2 separate regions of the Homo sapiens genome follow, and region 1 is linked to region 2. The links come from fine-mapping of genetic effects on gene expression. A gene starts in region 2. The other region holds a variant in brackets. All regions are shown on one strand. Distances are from middle to middle.

Region 1 (8,000 bases), 110 kb after region 2:
GGCTGGGAAAATGAGCAGGTTTTCTCCCTCTGTACAAAGAATATGTAAGAGAAGAGGATTTAGAGCAGACGTAGACATAGCCAATCCCAGTGTCTTCTGCCAGGTCCTCTCCTGATCTCAACACTATTCTGAATTTGTTCCTTTTTTTCTGTATGTTTACTGTCTTTTCATCTAGATGTTGGGGCAGAGGAGATGAGTGAGCATGAGCCTTCTGTGCTCTTCTTGGGTTTATTTATCAACACTCTTTTATTTTATTTATGTGTTTATTTGAGACGAAGTCTCTCTCTGTCACCCAGGCTGGAGTGTGGAATGCAGTGGCCCACCTCAGCCTCCCAAAGTGCTGGGATTACAGGCGTGAGCCACCGTGCCTGGCCTTATTTATCAACATTTATGGTGAGAATTGGTCATTCAAGTGGAACTGATCCTTCAAATAACTGGGAAAATATAGCTGTGGTTGGAGGGTGGACTTCCAACCAGCCATGCTGACTCAGCAGCCCTCCCAAGAAGGCTTGTTAGGAGAGCATCATTTCACATGCTTAAGAGCCGCTTGTGTTTCCCTTTTTTGAACTATCTATTGAAATACTTGTTGCCATTTGTTTTTCTCAATGGTTTGTAGGAACTCTATGTATATTATAGGAGCTCTTTATATACTCTGATTTGAGCTGCCAGTGCACCACAGGGACACCAAAGGTTCAGATTTCTTTCAACTTCAAGGATCCTTTGCATGGTTCAGTGTGCATGGGAGGAAAATGAGAAGCAGAAGGTTGGGGCACTAAGCAAACACCTTTCAGGTTCCTGGGCTTTGTTCTGGCTCCAGCCTCCCCAGCCAGGCCCTGTTCTTAGGAAGCCTCCCTTTGCTGTGGTCTTCAGTGTAAGACAGGGGTCCCCAACCTCTGGGCCACAGACCAGTCAGCAGCAACATTAAATTCTCATAGGAGCACAAACCCTATTGTGAACTTCACATATGAGAGATCTAGGTTGTGTGCTCCTTATGAGAATCTAATGCCTGATGATCTGAGGTGGAACAGTTTTATCCTGAAACCGTCTTCCCCTCCCCCACTGGTCCATAAAAAAAAACCAGTCCTGGGTGCCGAAAAGGTTGGGGACTGCTGCTGTAAGACCTGTGGCAGTGGCCAGAGAGGTGGTGATTAAGTTGTGTGTTGCAGGCTGTACAAAGAGCTATACATCGCATCCTGAAAGAGTGGAAAAACCATCCTTTACTGAGAGCCGAAGGGTGAGGAAATATCAATAATACTTGGCTGCTCTTTACATTGCCTTCAGGCCAGAGGGCAAGTCCTCTTGCAGCTTCTTCCTAGTACCACAGGCAGGCAGAATGTTTTGCTTTGTTTATAGTAGTTTTTCGCTGAATCTTTAGGGTTTTCCATATATAAGATCATGTCATCTGTGAACAGAAATAATTTTACTTCTTTTTTCCCAATTTGGTTGCCTTTTATTTCTTCTCCTTGCCTAATTGATCTGTCTAGGACTCTTAATACTACGTTAAATATTAGTGCTGGAAGCAGGCATCCTTCTCTTGTTCCTGATATTAAAGGAAAAGCTTTTAGTCTTTTACCATTAAGTACGATGTTAGCTGTGGGCTTTTTATTTATGGTCTTTACTATGTCGAGATAGTTTTCTTCCATTCCTAGTTTGTTGAGTGCTTTTATCAAGAAAGAATGTTGCATTTTCTCAGATGCTTTTTCTGCATTAAGATGATCGTGTCATTTTAAAATTTTCTTTTATTTCATTAATGTGATGTATTACAGTGATTGGTTTTCATATGTTAAACCATTCTTGCATTCAAGGAATAAATCCCACTTGGTCATGGTGTATAATTCTTTTAATGTACTTTGGAATTCTGTTTGCTGGCATTTTGTTGAGGATTTTTGGGTCACTGTTTACAAAGGATATTGATCTAATAGTTTTCTTGTAGTATCTTTGTCTAGCTTTGTCAGGGTAATGCTGTCCTCATAGAATGAAATAGGAAGTGTTCCTACCTATTTTGGAAGGAGGATTGGTGTTAATTCTCTAAGTGTTTGGTAGAATACATCAGAGAAGCTATATGATCCTAGGCTTTTCTTTATGAGAGGGTTTGTTTTATTGATTCAGTTTTCTTGCTCATTAGAGATCCGTCCAGATTTTTAATTTCTTTATGAGCCAGTCTTGGTAAGTTGTTTCCATTTTATGTAGGTTATCAGATTTATTGTCATATAGTTGTTCATGCTGTTCTCTTATTTATAATCTTTTTTATTTTTGTGGCATTGGTTGTAATGTCCCTGCTTTCATTTTTGATTTTCATTATTTGGATCTTGTCTCTCTTTTTATTATGTAGTCTAGCTAAAAGTTTGTCAATTTTGTTCATCTTTTCAAAGAATCAACTTTTGGTTTCATTGATTATCTCTATTATTTTCCATTTATCTTGTCCCATTATCTTTATTATTTTCTTCTGCTAGCTTTAGGTATAGTTCTTTTTCTAGTTCCTTAAGGTGTAATGTTAGATTATTGATTTGAGATCAGCTTTCACTGCATACTGTAAGTTTTGGTATGTTGTATTTTCATTTTCATTTGTCTCACTTTGTTTAATAGTGTGTTTTTTCAGCCAGGCGTGGTGGCTCACACCTGTAATCCCAGCACTTTGGGAAGCTGAGGTGGGAAGATCACTTGAGGTCAGGAATTCGAGACCAGCCTGAGCAACATAGCAAGACTCTCTCTCTCTCTCTCTTTTTTTTTTTTCCCCTCACTGTGGCCTCAACCTTCTGGCTCAATCAATCCTCCTGCCTCTGCCTCCCGAGTAGCTGGGATTACAGGCGTGCACCACCACACCCAACTAATTGTTGTATCTTTTGTAGAGATGGGGTTTTCTCCATGTTGCCCAGGCTGGTCTCAAATTCCTAGGCTCAATCAATCCACCCGTCTCAGGCTCCCAAAGTGTTGGGATTACAGGTGTAAGCCACCACACCCAACCAACTCCATCTGTTTTTATAAAAATACATGAAATTTAAAATAACAGTGTGTTTTCCAACTTCCACGATGTTGTAGATTTTTGGAGACAGAGTCTGACTCTGCCACCCAGGCTGGAGTACATTGGTGTAATCTCGACTTACTTCAACCTCCACCTCCCAGGCTCAAGTGGGCCTCCCACCTCAGCCTCCTGAGTAGCTGGGACCACAGATGTGCGCCACCATGCCTGGCAAATTTTTTATTTTTATTTTTTTTCTTGGTAGAGGTGGGATTTTGCTGTGTTGCCCAGGCTGGTCCCAAACTCCTGAGCTCAAGCAATCCACCTACCTCAGCCTCCCAAAGTGCTGGGATTACAGGTGTGAGCCACTGCACCTGGCCTCTTTCTTTCTTTTGAATATGTCATCCCACTGACTATGCTGATAATCTTATTGAATATCCTATTTACATGAGTTGCTTTTTTTCTTTTTTTGACATTTTAGTGCACCCATCACCTGAGCAGTGTACACTGTACCCAATGTGTAGTCTTTTATCACTCACCCTCTTCACCCTTCCCCCTGAGTCCCCAAAGTCCATTACATCATTGTTATACCTTTGCATCCTCATAGGTTAGCTCCTACTTATAAGTGAGAACATATAATGTTTGGTTTTCCATTCCTGAGTTACTTCACTTAGAATAATGGTCTCCAACTCCATCCAGGTTGCTGTGAATGCCATTATTTCATTCCTTTTTAAGGCTGAGTAGTATTCCATGGTGTATATATACCACATTTTCTTTATCCACTCATTGGTTGATGGGCATTTAGACTGGTTCCGTATTTTTGCAGTTGCAAATGGTGCTGCTATAAACGTGTGTACAAGTGTATTGTTCACATAATGACTTCTTTTCCTCTGGGTAGATACACAGTAGTGGGATTGCTGGATCAAATGGTAGTTCTACTTTTAGTTCTTTAAGGAATCTCTGGCCAGGTGCAGTGGCTCATGCCTGTAATCCCAGCACTTTGGGAGGCTGAGGCGGAAAGATCACCTGAGGTCAGGAGTTCAAGACCAGCACAGCCAACATGGTGAAACCCTGTCTCTACTAAAAATACAAAAAATTAGCCAACCATGGTGGCGCATGCCTATAGTCCCAGCTACTCAGGAGGCTGAGGCAGGAGAATCACTTGAACCCAGGAGGCAGAGGTTCCAGTGAGCCGAGATCGTGCCACTGCATTCCAGCCTGGGTGACAGAGTGAGACTCCATCTCCAGAACGAGTCCCCATACTGTTTTCCACGGTGGTTGTACTAGTTTACATTCCCACCAGCAGTGTAAAAGTGTTCCCTTTTCACCACCTCCATGCTAATATCTATTTTTTTTATTTTTTAATTATGGCCATTCTTGCAGGAGTAAGGTGGTATGTCATTGTGGTTTTGATTTGCATTTCCCTGATAATTAGTGATGTTGAGCATTTTTTTCATATGTTTGTTGGTCATTTGTATATCTTCTTTTGAGAATTGTCTATTCATGTTCTTTGTCCACTTTTTAATGGGGTTATTTGTTTTTATCTTGCTGATTTGTTTGAGTTCCTTGTAGATTCCAGATATTAGTCCTTTGTCAGATGCATAGTTTGCAAATATTTTCTCCCACTCTGTGGGTTGTCTGTTTACTCTGCTGATTATTTCTTTTGCTGTGCAGAAGCTTTTAAGTTTAATTAGGTGCCATCTCTTTATCCTTGTTTTTGTTGCATTTGCTTTTGGGTTCGTAGTCATGAACTATTTGCCTAAGCCAATGTCTAGAAGAGTTTTTCCGATGTTATCTTCTAGAATTGTTGTGGTTTCAGAT[C/T]GTAGATTTAAGTCTTTGATCCATCTTGAATTGATATTTGTATAAGATGAGAGATGAGGATCCAGCTTCATTCTTCTATATGTGGCTTGCCAGTTATCCCAGCACCACTTGTTGAATAGGGTGTTTGTTCCCCACTCTGTATTTTTGTTTGCTTTGTTGAAGATCTGTTGGCTGTAAGTATTTGGCTTTATTTCTGGGTTCTCTATTCTGTTCCATTGGTCTGTTTGCCTATTTTTATACCAGTACCATGCTGTTTTGGTGGTAACTATATCCTTGTAGTATAGTTTGATGTCGGGTAATGTGATGCCTCCAGCTTTATCTTGCTTTGGCTATTTGGGCTCTTTTGTTCCATATGATTTTTTTTTTTTTTTTTTTTTTTTGAAACAGGGTCCCACTCTGTCACCCAGGTTGGAGTGCAGTGGCACAATCTCGGCTCATGGCAAACTCTGCCTCCAAGGCTCAAGTGATCCTGCACCTCAGCCTCCTGAGTAGCTGGGACTACAGCATGTGCCAGCACACCCGGCTAATTTTTGTATGTTTTGTAAAGATAGGGTTTCACCATGTTGTCTAGGCTGGTCTCGAACTCCTGGGCTCAAGTGATCTGCCCATTTTAGCCTCCCAAAGTGCTGGGATTACAGACGTGAGCCACCACACCCAGCTGATTTTTGTATATTTTGTAGAGACAGAGTTTCGCCATGTTGCCCAGACTGGTTTCGAACTCCTGGGCTCAAGTGATCTGCCTACCTTAGCCTCCCAAAGTGCTGGAATTACAGGCGTGAGCCACCACACCCTGCTGTGGTTTCTTGTGAATTTTAGGGTTGTTTTTTCTAGTTCTGTGAAGAATAATCATGGTAGTTTGATGGGAATTGCATTGAATCTGTAGATTGCTCTTAGCAGTATGGTCATTTTTAATTTTACCTACCATGAGCTTTAGATGTGTTTCCATTTATTTGTGTTGTCTATGATTTCTTTCAGCAATCAGTTTTTCAGTTTTTCTTGTAGAGATCTTTCACATCCTTGGTTAGGTATATTCCGAAGTATTTTATTTTATTTTATTTGCAGCTATTGTAACAAGAGGTTCTTGATTTGATTCTCAGCTTGGTCATTGTTGGTATACAGCAGTGTTACTGATTTGTGTACATTGATTTTGTACCCTGAAAGTTTACGGAATTCATTTATTAGATCTAGGAGCTTTTTGGATGAGTCTTTAGGGTTTTCTAGGTATACGATCATATCATTGGCAAACAGCGATATTTTGACTTCCCCTTTACATATTTGGATGCCCTTTATTTCTTTCTCTTGTCTGTTTGCTCTGGCTAGGACTTCCAGTACAATGTTGAATAGCAGTGGTGACAGTGGGCATCCTTGTCTGTTAGAGTTCTCAGGGGGAACCCTTTTATCTTTTCCCTTTTCGGTATAAAGTCAACTGTGAGTTTGTCATAGTGGCTTTTATTACCTTGAGGTATTTCCATTCTATGACGGTTTTCCTGAGGGCTTTAATCGAAGGCATGCTAGATTTTGTCAGATGCTTTTTCGGCATCTATTGAGATGATCATATGATTTTGTTTTTAATTCTGTTTATGTGATGTATCTCATTTATTGACATGTGTACGTTAAGTCTTCCCTGTATCCCTGGTATGAAACCCACTTGATCATGGTGTATTATCTTTTTGATACACCATTTGATTCGATTAGGTAGTATTTTGTTGAGGATTTTTGCATCTATGTTCACCAGGGATATTGGTCTGTAGATTTCATTTTTTGTTATGTCCTTTCCTGGTTTTGGTATTAGGGTGATACTGGCTTCATAGAGTGATTTAGGGAGATTCCCTCTTTCTCTGTCTTTTGTAATAGCTTCAGTAAGATTGGTACAAATTCTTCTTTGAATGTTCAATAGAATTCAGCTGTGAATCCATCTGGTCCCAGACTGTTTTTTTGTTGGCAATTTTTAAATTACTGTTTCAGTCTTGCTACTTATTATTGGTCTGTTCAAAGTTTCTATTTTTTCCTGAATGAATCTAGGAGGGTTATATATTTCCAGGAATTTATCCATTTCCTCTAGATTTTCTAGTTTGTGTGCATAAAGGTGTTCATAGTAGTCTTGAATGATCTTTTCTATTTCTGTGGTATCAGTTGTAATATCTTTCATTTTGTTTCTAATTTAGCTTAATTGGATCTTTTTTTTTTTTTTTTGAGACGGAGTCTCGCTCTGTCGCCCAGGCTGGAGTGCAGTGGTGCATCTCGGCTCACTACAACCTCTGCCTCCCAGGTTCAAGCAATTCTCAGGCCTCAGCCTCCCAAGTAGCTGGGACTACAGGCATGCGTCACCACACCCAGCTAATTTTTTTCTATTTTTGATAGAGACGGGGTTTTGGCATTTTGGCCAGGCTGGTCTTGAACTCCTGACCTCAAGTGATCCTCCTGCCTTGGCCTCCAAAATTGCTGGGATTACAGACACGAGCCACCGTGCTTGGCCTCTTTCATACTTTTTGATGTAAGCATTTAATGCTATCAACTTTCCTCTTAGCACCACTTTTGCTGTGTCCCAGAGGTTTTGATAAGCTGTGTCATTATTCAGTTCATAAAACTTTTTAATTTCCATCTTGATTTCATTGTTTACCCAAAGATCATTCAGGAGCATATTTTTTAATTTCCATGTATTTGTATAGTTTTGAGGGTTCCTTTTGGAGTTAATTTCCAATTTTATTTTACTGTGGTCTAAGAGGGTACTTGATATAATTTCGATTTTCTTAAGTTTATTGAGAGTTGTTTTGTGGCCTATCATATGGTCTTTCTTGGAGAATGTTCCATGTGCTGATGAAAAGAATGTATATTCTGCAGTTGTTGGGTAGAATGTTCTGTAAATATGTGTTAAGTCCATTTGTTCTAGGGTATAGTGTAAGTCCATTGTTTCTTTGTTGCTTTTCTGTCTTGATGACCTGTCTAGTGTTGAAGTCCCCGCTGTTACTGTGTTGCTGTGTATCTCATTTCTTACGTTGAGTACTAATTGTTTTATAAATTTGGGAGCTCCCGTGCTAGGTGCATATATATTTAGGATTGTGATATTTTCCTGTTGGACTGATCCTTTTATCATTATGTAATGTCCCTTTTTGTCTTTTTCAACTATTGTTGCTTTAAAGTCTGTTTTGTCTGATATAAGAATAGCTATTTCTGCTCGCTTTTGGTTTGTATTTGCATGGAATATCTTTTTTCACCCCTT
Region 2 (10,326 bases):
GACAGTGGAAGAGGAGGCAACTACAAGGCTTTGGAAGCCCCAGGTACCTTAGTAGACCATAGAAAGCCTAGAAGCAGTTCTGTGTAGATTGTGGAATTCTCAAAAGGCACCTCTAGAAATGAGGGACTAAAGACAGAATTCTGTTACTAAGCAGTTAGAGCTGCATTACCCTCCCTCCCCCATCCCAGAAGGCTGGAGGCTCGACTCCAGTAGGTCTCTAGACTACTATCTCTGAAGTGAAGGCCACAGTCAGAAAGCTTTCCATTCCAGCATCTAAATAATAGAGGATTTGTGGGAAGAACAGCCACAGAAACCAAAGGAGCAGAAATCATCAGGGAAATAGTTTCCCCAAAGATGGGCACAATTTTGCAGATTTGAAGGGCTCACTGAGTTCCAGCAAAATGAATGAAAATAGCCCCACTTTGAGGCAAAGAAAGATCCTAAAGCTTCTAGAGAGAGAACAGAGGTATCACCATGCATTAAGGACATCATCAGCCAAGCGCCATGGCTCACACCTGTAATCCCAACACTTTGGGAGGCTGATGCGGGAAGATCATCTGAGCCCAGGAGTTTGAGACCAGCCTGGGCAATATAGGGAGACCCTGTCTCTACAGAAAATTTTAAAAATTAGCCAAGCATGGTGGCACGCACCTATAGTCCCAGCTACTTTAATGCTGAGTTGGGAGCATCACTTGAGCCTGGGAGGTGGAGGCTGCTGTGAGCTGAGATCACACCACTGCACTCCAGCCTGGGTAACAGTAAGTCCCTGTCTCCCAAAAAAAGGGACATCATCTTAGCAGGACACAGAGGAAACTAGAAGATAGTGGAGCAATATACTCAAAATTCTGAGGGGAAATTTTTTCCAACCTAAAATTCTGTACCAACTCTTATGAGCTGGATTGTGTCCCTCCAGTGTTTCTGTGTTGAAGCCCTAACCCCCAGTAACTCAGATAGGGCCATTTAAAGAAGCAATTAAGTTAAAATAAGACCATTAGAGTTGGCCATAATTCAATCTGGTGTCCTTTTAAGAAGAGGAAATTTGGACATAGGAAGGGCCATGTGAGGACACAGCAAGAAGGCAGCCATCTGCAAGCCAAGGAAAAGGGTGTCAGAGGAAACCAAACCTGCTGACACCTTGATCCTGCACTTCTAGCCTCCAAAACTATGAAGAATAAATTTCTGTTGTTTGAGCCACCCTATCTTTGGCATTTTATATGGCAGCCCTAGCAGACTAACATACCAACCAGCCTATCAATGAAATATGAGATTAGAAAAAAGGAACTCACAAGAAGATAATCCTCATGCATCTTTTCTCAGGAAGCTCCTAGGAGGTGTTCCTCACTAAAATGAAGGAATAAGGTAGAAATAAGAAAGTCATAGAATCCAGGAAATAAGGAGCCCCCACTAACATGTACGGCACCTAGAGAAAGGCCAGTCCAGGTACGGCAGGGCGAAGGCCCAGGAGACACAGGTTTGTCAAAACAGATGAACTCCATGCAATGCAGGCTGTGATTGAATAGAGGAAGAAGCCAAACACAGCTATTGACACCAGGATGAATGGAAGGCTGTGCGGCAAAGGAAGACTAAATGCAGCTGTGACTCAAATTTACATGAATGTGACCACATAAATACTAAACAGTGCTCTATTGCAGGTATAACATGCTACAGTTAGTGGGGAGCCAGGTGCAGGGATGTGTGTTGAACATTCCAGAATCCTCTTCTTCCTAGGGAAAAGTTGAGATAATGCCTCAGACTGACTAGCAATAAAAGCATGTGAAAAAAAATATGTGCAGTTTTCAAAGGTTTGGGAAAAAACAATCCCTCTTTCTGCTGATGGAAGGATAGCTTAGTGGAATGTTTCTGAGGGCTGGTTGGTCTCTATATGTTAAAAGCATTAAAAGTGTGTACACACTTTGACCCAGGAATTTGAGCTCTAAAAAAAATCAGAGTTGTGTGCAAATACATTAAGCTGCTTACCACAACAATGTCCACTGGTAGAAAACTGGCCCTCCTACATCATGGAATTCTTTTTTACAGAATTCAGTTCTGTAGCCTTGGGAGTATACTAGACAGGAAGTTTATTGGCATGAGATTTCAGAATTAAGTGGGAAAACAATTCTTTAAGCATGTACAGAAAAGTGACCTGAAATGTTTTTGGGTGATGAACTTACAGACTTTTTTTTTTTTTTTTTTTTTTGAGGCAGGGTCTTGCTCTGTTGCTCTGCCATCCAGGCTGGAGCAGTGGCACAATCATAGCTCACTATGGCCCTGGCTCAAACCATCCTCCCGTCTCAGCCTCCCAAGTAGCTGGGATCATAGGCACATACCACACTGAGCTATTTTTGGTAGAGATGGGATCTCACTATGTTGCCCAGGCTGGTCTTGAACTCCTGGGCTCAAGTGATCCTCCCACCTAGGCCTCCTAAAGTGCTGGGATTACAGGTGTCAGCTATCGTGTCCAGCCTGAGATATTTCTTATGAGTAATGTGGATGGTACGTGAGTCCATAGAGTAAGGCATTTATTGTAAACCTCCAGGGAGTTTCTGAAAATAGTATCTTCTCTTCAAACCTAGGATGAAGCTGGAGGCAGATTCGTCGCTTTCTCTGGAGAAGGACAGTCATTGCGTAAAAAGGGAAGAAAGCCCTAAGTGAGGACTGTTGGCTGATTGGAAAATAATAAAAGAATCATTTGCAACATCTTGGCTTTTAGTTACTGGCACTGACAGGGACGAGCCTCATCAGAGAATACTCTGTTACTTAAGATTTATTTAGAGTTACCTAAGAATTATTAAGTTTGACTTGGAAGTGGAGCAGCAGGACTTTGTAGTTGTATGCTTGATTTGGGGAAAGACAAAGAGCTGTCCCTGAGGGCCTGTAGATAGCTGCCTCCTCACCTCTTCACGCTTTCAGCTTGAGGGGAGCTCCCACTGCCTCAGCAGGAGCAATTCTGCATCCCTAATTCTGTCAAAACCTATGAAGGTGACTAAATTGTCTAACATGAAGTGTTCTTTCTTTTTCTTCATTTATCCTTTCTTTTCCTACATCAATTGCATAGGTGTCAGTCTTTGGCCTAAAAAAAGGCTTTAAATAGACATGTGTTCTATAAGTAGTGGCTGTCCCACTACTGTGGCTGCAATTTAAGTATTTGACAAAGAATGTTTCTATTTTTATTTTACATATTTTTTTCAAAAACACCACTCAGAAGAACCTGATCTGAATGAGTTTGCACTTTTATTCTCATTTCATATGGACATAACTGGCTCCTTAGTGAACCTGTTCATAGTGAAACAACTCCATGGAGAAGCAAACATGTGAATGTTAGAATGAACAAATGCTAAAGAGATGTTCCTCTCCTTCTTCCCTACTCCCCAACTCCCAATTTTAATTTATTAAATCATCCAAGCTTCTGCTGGCCTGTATTTTTTATCAGTATTTATTTGGTCTTAGATCTTCACTTTCTATAACGTGAGATCTTTTGACATGCTAATCTGATTATTTTAAATTTGTTCCCATGAGCCACTGTGCCTGGCCCCATTGGGAATAATTCTAAGCCAAGAATTTCAAGTAAAAACAGGCAATAACTAAAGCCTAAATCTAAATGTTTGATTAGGTACTAACACAGACTGGTGGTTGGGCCTCTGACCATAACTGAAGGCCTGTTGGCAGGTGCTCCGTGTTCCATCTCACCATTAGAAAAGTGTCCCTCTGGGGCTTCTCCTGGAGAAAGTAGGAAGAAACAAGGCTGCCTGATCCCTAGGTGGCAATGGCTAAGCCCAGCAGGGTCCCCCATGAGCCAGGGCTAACCCTGCTTCCAGACATGGGGGTCCTGCCCTGGTCAGGGCCCCTCCAACACTCCAGAGAGGAGAGAATGGTGGCCCCAGGGTCTATCCACGTCTTCAGTGAAGAGTGTCTATGAGTGTCATGATGTTCAGTACTTGGCCTGTGGCACAAACCATCATCACTGGAAATGGGCGTGGTTTTGGAAGGCATGAGCACTGTGGGGACTTACCTGAGCCTCCACTGACAAAGTCTCAGTTTTACTAGCAGAGGGAGAAACCCTTGGTGGGTAGACAGCCTTCATTTGCAGGATCACATCAGCTAACAGACTGTCACTTTATGCATAATGAAGAATGTTACAGTACCTCTGGCTCTGGGTTTTTGTCTTCACTAAGCAACACCTGCTGTGTATGCAGTGAAACGCCTGGTCCTTTGCTGGAGGCACACTCCCCTGCCTGGACCAGGATGGATTCCATTGCAGAGCCTTTTAATGACACAGTGGGGCCAGTTGGAGCACTGATCCTGGTCATTACTCCTGCACCCTGGCCTGCAGCCTTCCTCTCAGTGTCTTATTTGGGCTTGGTCCTTGAGCCGGCTGCCTCAACAGCAGGACCCCTGGTAAAACTGCAGCTTTCTGATCCACCTCCAGGGAGTCTGTCCCAGTGTCATTCCTGGGACTGGCCCAGCAGTCCCAGGATTTGTATCAGTGGATACTGAGGATTTGTTATCAGTGAAGTGGGAGAACCGCAGCATAGGTACTGCAGGGCGTTTCTGCAAGCCCACCAGCCTCCTCTTTACTTGCCTTTGTTGCCTCTTGTGCATTGCTCCTTTTTATAAACGTCCCAGCCAGGCACTGGCGCTCCGCCTATAATCCTAGCACTTTGGGAGGCCAAAGTGAGAGGGTCGCTTGAGGCCAAACTAGCCTGGGTAACTTAGCAAGACCCCATCTTTACAAAAAAAAAAAAAAAAAATTAAAAATTAGCCTGGTGAGGCTGTGCATGCTTTTGGTCCCAGCTGTTCGGAGTCCAGGAGTTTGAGGTTGCAGTAAGCCATGAACACGCCACGCCACTGCACTAAGCCTGGGTGACACAGCAAGACCCTGTCTCGAAAAATGAATAAGGTAAATGTTACATGTCTCCCGCACCCTTAGAATAGAACTACAGACATCCAAGCCACTCCTACCCCGCTCACCCCTGCTACACACCGCCTCCATACCTTTGACCGGCCTATGGCTGTACTCGGATTGCATTCTCAGCCTCCACTTCAAGCCTGCGTTCCCTGGGGAGGTCATTCAACCCTAGATCCACCATATGTCATGCCCAACCAATCTCAGTTACTTTGCGAGTTCACCTCCATCCTGAGTGGACGCTCAAGCAAGACTGCTGGAGCTGCAGATCTGGGAGGTTCGCTGCACCACCTTGATGCTCAGTATGTACTTTTGAAAATATACCGGATTGTTGAGATTTGAGAAAATCTCATAAAGCTGCTGAAAAGAACTGGCCAGAGCCGTGTGATTTGAGAGGCGGCTGACGTAAGGTAGCTGCGCGGCCCAGGATGCCCGCCTGGCCCGGGGTGAATGGCGCTGTCGTCGCGGTGGTCGCGTAGGCTTCGCGCCAGGTCTCGCCCCGGATTTACCCTGCGACCCCGGCCCTCCGCGCGCGCCGCAGCCGCCCTCGGTTGCTATTGGTTGCTCGTCCTGTTTGTCGGCGCTTCTCGAAGAAGGGGGCGAAGACGTGATTGAATGTGTCGGTGCTCATTAGTTCTTCTGTCAGTCGATCACGAGGTGCCGTTTTCTTCATTTTTCATTGGCTGGCGGACTGAGGGGCGGGCTTGGCGCGCCGGTCGCCCAGACATGGCGGACGGCAGCGGCTGGCAGGTGAGTGTGCTGGGTCGGAGCCGGGAACCACCGGGGTCTTCCGGAGGGAGGGAACGGGACTGGCTCGGGGCGTAGGGCGCGGCCGCCGGGCCCCGCTCAGGCGCCGCCTCTCGCCGCAGCCGCCGCGCCCCTGCGAGGCCTACCGCGCCGAGTGGAAGCTCTGCCGCAGCGCCAGGCACTTCCTACACCACTACTACGTCCACGGCGAGCGGCCGGCCTGCGAACAGTGGCAGCGCGACCTGGCCAGCTGCCGCGACTGGGAGGAGCGCCGGAACGCCGAGGCCCAGGTGCGCCGGGAGGGAGCGGGGCGGCGCTTCGGAGCGCCTTGCGGGGCCCAGCTTTCCCCACCCCTCCACGCCCCATGCCCCGCGACCTAGCCGGGGACTGACGGGGTCCCTATCCTCCTCACGCTTCCTTTCTTTTGAGAGATTGTGTAAATTAGCATATCAACAGGACTTTCAGAGGGCGTGAAAGACAAAGGAGGAGACCAGCGAGGAGGGGGTGTAGAGTGGTTTAGAGAGGGAAGAGGGCAGCCGTCCGGTGTTAGGGTCATCAGCTGGCCTACGCAGGAGGTGATGTTGCTGAGTCCTGAGTGACCAGGAGCCAGCCTTCATCCAGCCCCGGTAGACACCGCTGAGAAACAGATAAGGCCTGGGTTCCTGAAGCAGAGGGTAGGTGGATGGTTGGAGAGCGGTATACCAGGGACCTGGCGGGCCTTTTGATACGGAGTTTAGAGTTTAGTCTAAAGTGTGCTGGGAGGCATAATTCGATTTATATCTTTAAAAGATCAGTCTGTTAGCAAAGTGTGGTGGCGTGCACCTGTGGTCCCAGCTACTTGGGAGGGTGAGGCGGGAGGATCGCCTAAGCCCAGGAGTTCAAAGCTGCAGTGAGCTATGGTCACACCACTGCACACCAGCCTGGATAACAGAGGGAGACCTGTCTCAGGGGGGAAAAAAAAGAGAGAGGGTAAAAGAAGTTCAATCTGTTTGCTAGGGTGTAGAGAATATATTACAGGAGCAGAGAGACCGGTAAGGAGGTGGTTCTAGTTGTTTTTTCGTCCAGCAAATATGTACCACATTGGGTGCTCTTGGGGATGCACGAGTGATAAGAAGAGTCTCTGCCCTCCTGGCACCCACACTGTAGTGTAGAATACAGTGCTACGGTGGACCCCTTGTGGGAGAGGAGATGGAGAGAAGCCAGCCGAAAGGTGCGAGGCTCATGGGGAGTGCCAAGGAATGAGAATCAATGGGACTGATCAACACTTCAACATTATTAAGTGTATACAGTGATCTGAAAGAGATGAACTGATGTGGAAACCAGACTGCTGTATAAAAGAAAATGATGACTATTCCATAATATGTGAAAGTCAAAAAAAGTAAGAAAGCTGACAGCTTATATAGCAAGAGATTGATAACTTTAATGTATATATATGTGCGTGTGTGTGTATAAAGAGCTGTTATATATATATCAATAAGAAATATAGGGATTATTTCAGAATGGAAAAATGGCCAAAGGACACAAAGAAGCAATTCATTAAAAAAGAAAGCCAGCTGGGCATGGTGGTGGGCACCTGTAATCTCGGCACTTTGGGAGGCCGAGGCAAGGGGATCGCTTGAGCCCAGGAGCTTGAGACCAGCCATGGGCAACATGGTGAGACTCCATCTTTATAAAAATAATAAAAAAGGAGAAAAGCCTGGGCATGGTGGCTCATGCCTGTAATCCTAGCACTTTGGGAGGCCGAGGTGGGCAGATCACCTGAGGTCAGGAGTTTGAGACCAGCCTGGCAACATGGCGAAACCCCATCTCTACTAAAAATACGAAAATTAGCCACGCATGGTGGCAAACACCTGTAATCTCAGCTACTCGGGAGGCTGAGATAGGAGAATTGTTTGAACCTGGGAGGCGGAGGTTGCAATGAGCCGAGATCGTGTCACTGCACTCCAGCCTGGGCAACAGAGTAAGACTCCCTCTCAAGAAAAAAAAAGAAAAAATCAAATGGCCAGGTGTCAGGTATATAAGTCTAAATGACAGTAACAGCAGAAAGTGGTGTTGATAGAGGTTTGAAGAATTCTGGGTAGTTGTGCAGTGTTGGTGGGGGTGTCAGGTGTTCTGATTATGTAAATGTCAGATACATACCTTTTGACCTTAAGTTTTACTTCTGGAACTTTATCCCAGGGAAGTAATTGGATAACAGTGTACAGTTAAAAGTTAGAATGCTAATTATGTTTTTGATACTGCAAAAGCTGAAAACAACCTAAATTTCACTAATAGACATTTGACCAAATAGCTTTTTCCACAAAGTGAAATACCAGATAGCCTTTGAAAAGAATGGTCGGTCATCTCCCTGGGTATGGAAAAGTGCCTACAGTGTATTGTTTAGTGAAAAGAAAGCAGGAAGTAGACTAGCCAGCAAAAGATTATCCTATCTTTAGGGAAACATGTTAGCTCTAAAATGTGGACCAAAAAAAGATATCAGGGAAGCTGTTAACTGCCGCATTGGGAATGGACATTTGGGAATCTTTAATATTCTGTACTACATTTCTGATAGCTTTTTAAACACGATCAAAATATTTTATTTGAGGCAATAGAGCTTGAACAAAGACAGACATGTAGACAGATTAAGTTATCTGTGTAAAGAGGCTCACATAGCACCTGATACCTACCAAGGGCTGACAGCAAAGGTCACCCATGTTGTGATACACTGACTTGTGTCTGTATTGGGAGACAGTAGCCAAGAGAAGCTGATGGGTTAAGTGGCACTTGTGGCACCACTCAGGCGGGTGGTCTGTCCTCTGGACTCTTCCCACCCTTCCAGGATACCCAGGACATGTATTTCTTCCCCGTCTTCCTCCCTTCTCCCTAACACACTCCTCCCTGCAGCTCCCCACAGCTGCTCTCTCAGACTCTTCTCTCCTCTCCACCCAGCACCCCCAGGCTCACTCTCAGCAGGTGAATATGCCCCAGACTCACGAGGTCAACCAGAGCCATTGAGCCCTGAGGTCCAGGAGAAGATATTTAAAAATTCCTCAAATTATTATGACCTATTCAGTAGTTTTTCACAGTAGCTTGTGAGAAAAAAAATGATCTCCATCTCTGTGCGCTAATATGGAAGAATCGCCAAGGTATAGTAGGTGGAAGCAGCTGTGCTGCAGAGTGGTGTGTACCATAGGCCCTGCCTGTCCATCTGTGTTTCAGAGGGTGATGAGAGGGGGGAGGTACAGGGGTCTTGAGGGTGCTCAGAGCCTGGGGAGTGACTAGAGTCTCATTTGCACAGCAATCCCTCTGTGAGAGCGAGCGGGCACGAGTCCGGGCTGCACGGAAGCACATCCTGGTGTGGGCCCCGAGGCAGAGCCCCCCTCCAGACTGGCATCTCCCTCTGCCACAGGAGAAGGACGAGTGACAAGCATCCCTGCCATTGGCCTGTGCAGCTTCCTCAGTCTGTTTCAAGTTGCTGTTGCACAGCCCTGGGGACTGTGACCAGCCTACACAGTCTGGTGGGTCCCTGTGAGCTCTTGCTCACAGGAACATGGAGCAGGACATTGCTAGCCCTACTTGCCCACCCCTCACCTGCATGCAGGATACCCTGACACTGCGATGTTCTGCAGGACAATTGCACCGCTTTAGAGCTTCCAGGAGGCCAAGCATTATGGCAGGTACTTGTGAGCAGCCAGGTCAGGCTGGGCATGGTAGCATAGGAGATGGCGGTCCTGAGGTCTAGGCTTCTCAGGTAAACTGAAGGGTAGCCCTGACCTGTGTGGACACACAGGTGGGTCATAATGAGGTAGCTAAACAGTTGTGCCACTGTGAATGTCTTTCCTAGTCCTTGGGAAACTGCCTGCCACGTCCCAGGTTTGGTGAGCATTGTGAGTGCTCACACTCTGCTCCACTCGCTCAGTTCCACTGCACATGCAGGCAGGTGTGCCGAGCAGGTAGGGCTTGCTGGCCCCTCTGCACCAGCAGGCTTCACTTCTTAGGCTCCCAGGTCGGCCCCTGGAGACTCTGGTTTTTAAGAAATGCACACAGCTACAGAACACACAACCTTGCATAAAGAGGGTTTGTGGACTCAGCTGAAGAAATCCAAGTCCAAGACATATGGAATTAAGCACTCCTTCCCTCAAAATTTCCCCTGGTGGTTAATGTATCAAAAGCTATTTCATCTGATTTCAAATAGAAGCTGAAAATTAAGTTCACACTTGTTAGATTTTGTGTGTAACAGTGTTGTACCTGGACAGTATTAGAAATTTGTATGCTTATTCTCTTGTTAAGTGTTTTAAAATGTATGAACCACCAAAAACACTATTTCTTGAAGAGGTCTGTTTATTACTAATAGAATGGTTTCTCATCCTATGGTGGCCCTGTTGTGTGATGCTGAGGGCTAGGCTGGGTCTGTGCCCAGCACCCTCCCTGCTCTCTTCCTGGACACAGGCAGCAAGTTGAATATCTTTTAATTTGTTCTTTGGGGCAGAATAATCTATCACGTTAGAAGGGTGTCCATTAAAGAACAGTATTTCCCTGCTTGAGTGTGTTTTCTCCTGTGCTCCCTAAGAGCCCCTGTGTCTGTGAACAGTGGGGGTGGGGGTGGGGGTTGTGCTCACGGGATCCCAAGAGCAGGAGCATCTAAAGAGGAGCCAGCGTTCCCCCATCATCAGGGGAGTACTGATGTGTCTAAGGCA

Which allele goes with the higher level. Alleles are on the strand shown, and positions count from the first base shown. SD is a standard deviation of normalised expression in the study named.
With allele T in place of C in region 1, the expression in lung of the gene that starts at base 5,607 in region 2 is higher (small effect, 0.15 SD a copy in GTEx).

Evidence for each region.
Region 1: its variant is fine-mapped to the expression of C22orf39 in lung (TOPMed, PIP above 0.99).

What each region holds. Positions count from the first base shown.
Region 1 is chr22:19,338,609-19,346,608 of GRCh38, reverse strand. The region is part of intron 24 of HIRA (histone cell cycle regulator); the gene reads left to right. All of the region lies in intron 5 of LOC105372859 (a long non-coding RNA gene), which reads right to left. Among named protein-coding and RNA genes, the nearest start is that of CLTCL1, 51 kb to the right of the region's middle. The variant C/T (reference allele first, on the strand shown) is at 4,781.
Region 2 is chr22:19,442,992-19,453,317 of GRCh38, reverse strand. C22orf39 (chromosome 22 open reading frame 39) reads left to right here and starts at 5,607. Exons shown (of 3, transcript NM_173793.5): 1 at 5,607-5,653; 2 at 5,773-5,940; 3 at 8,928-10,326. The coding sequence starts at 5,630. The coding sequence ends at 9,053. UFD1 (ubiquitin recognition factor in ER associated degradation 1) reads left to right here. Exons shown (of 12, transcript NM_005659.7): 12 at 2,574-3,407. The coding sequence ends at 2,648. It overlaps UFD1-AS1 (UFD1 antisense RNA 1), which reads right to left and starts at 5,884. Exons shown (of 2, transcript NR_186687.1): 1 at 4,993-5,884; 2 at 1,630-1,724. RefSeq lists a silencer at 5,662-6,061 and an enhancer at 5,509-6,411.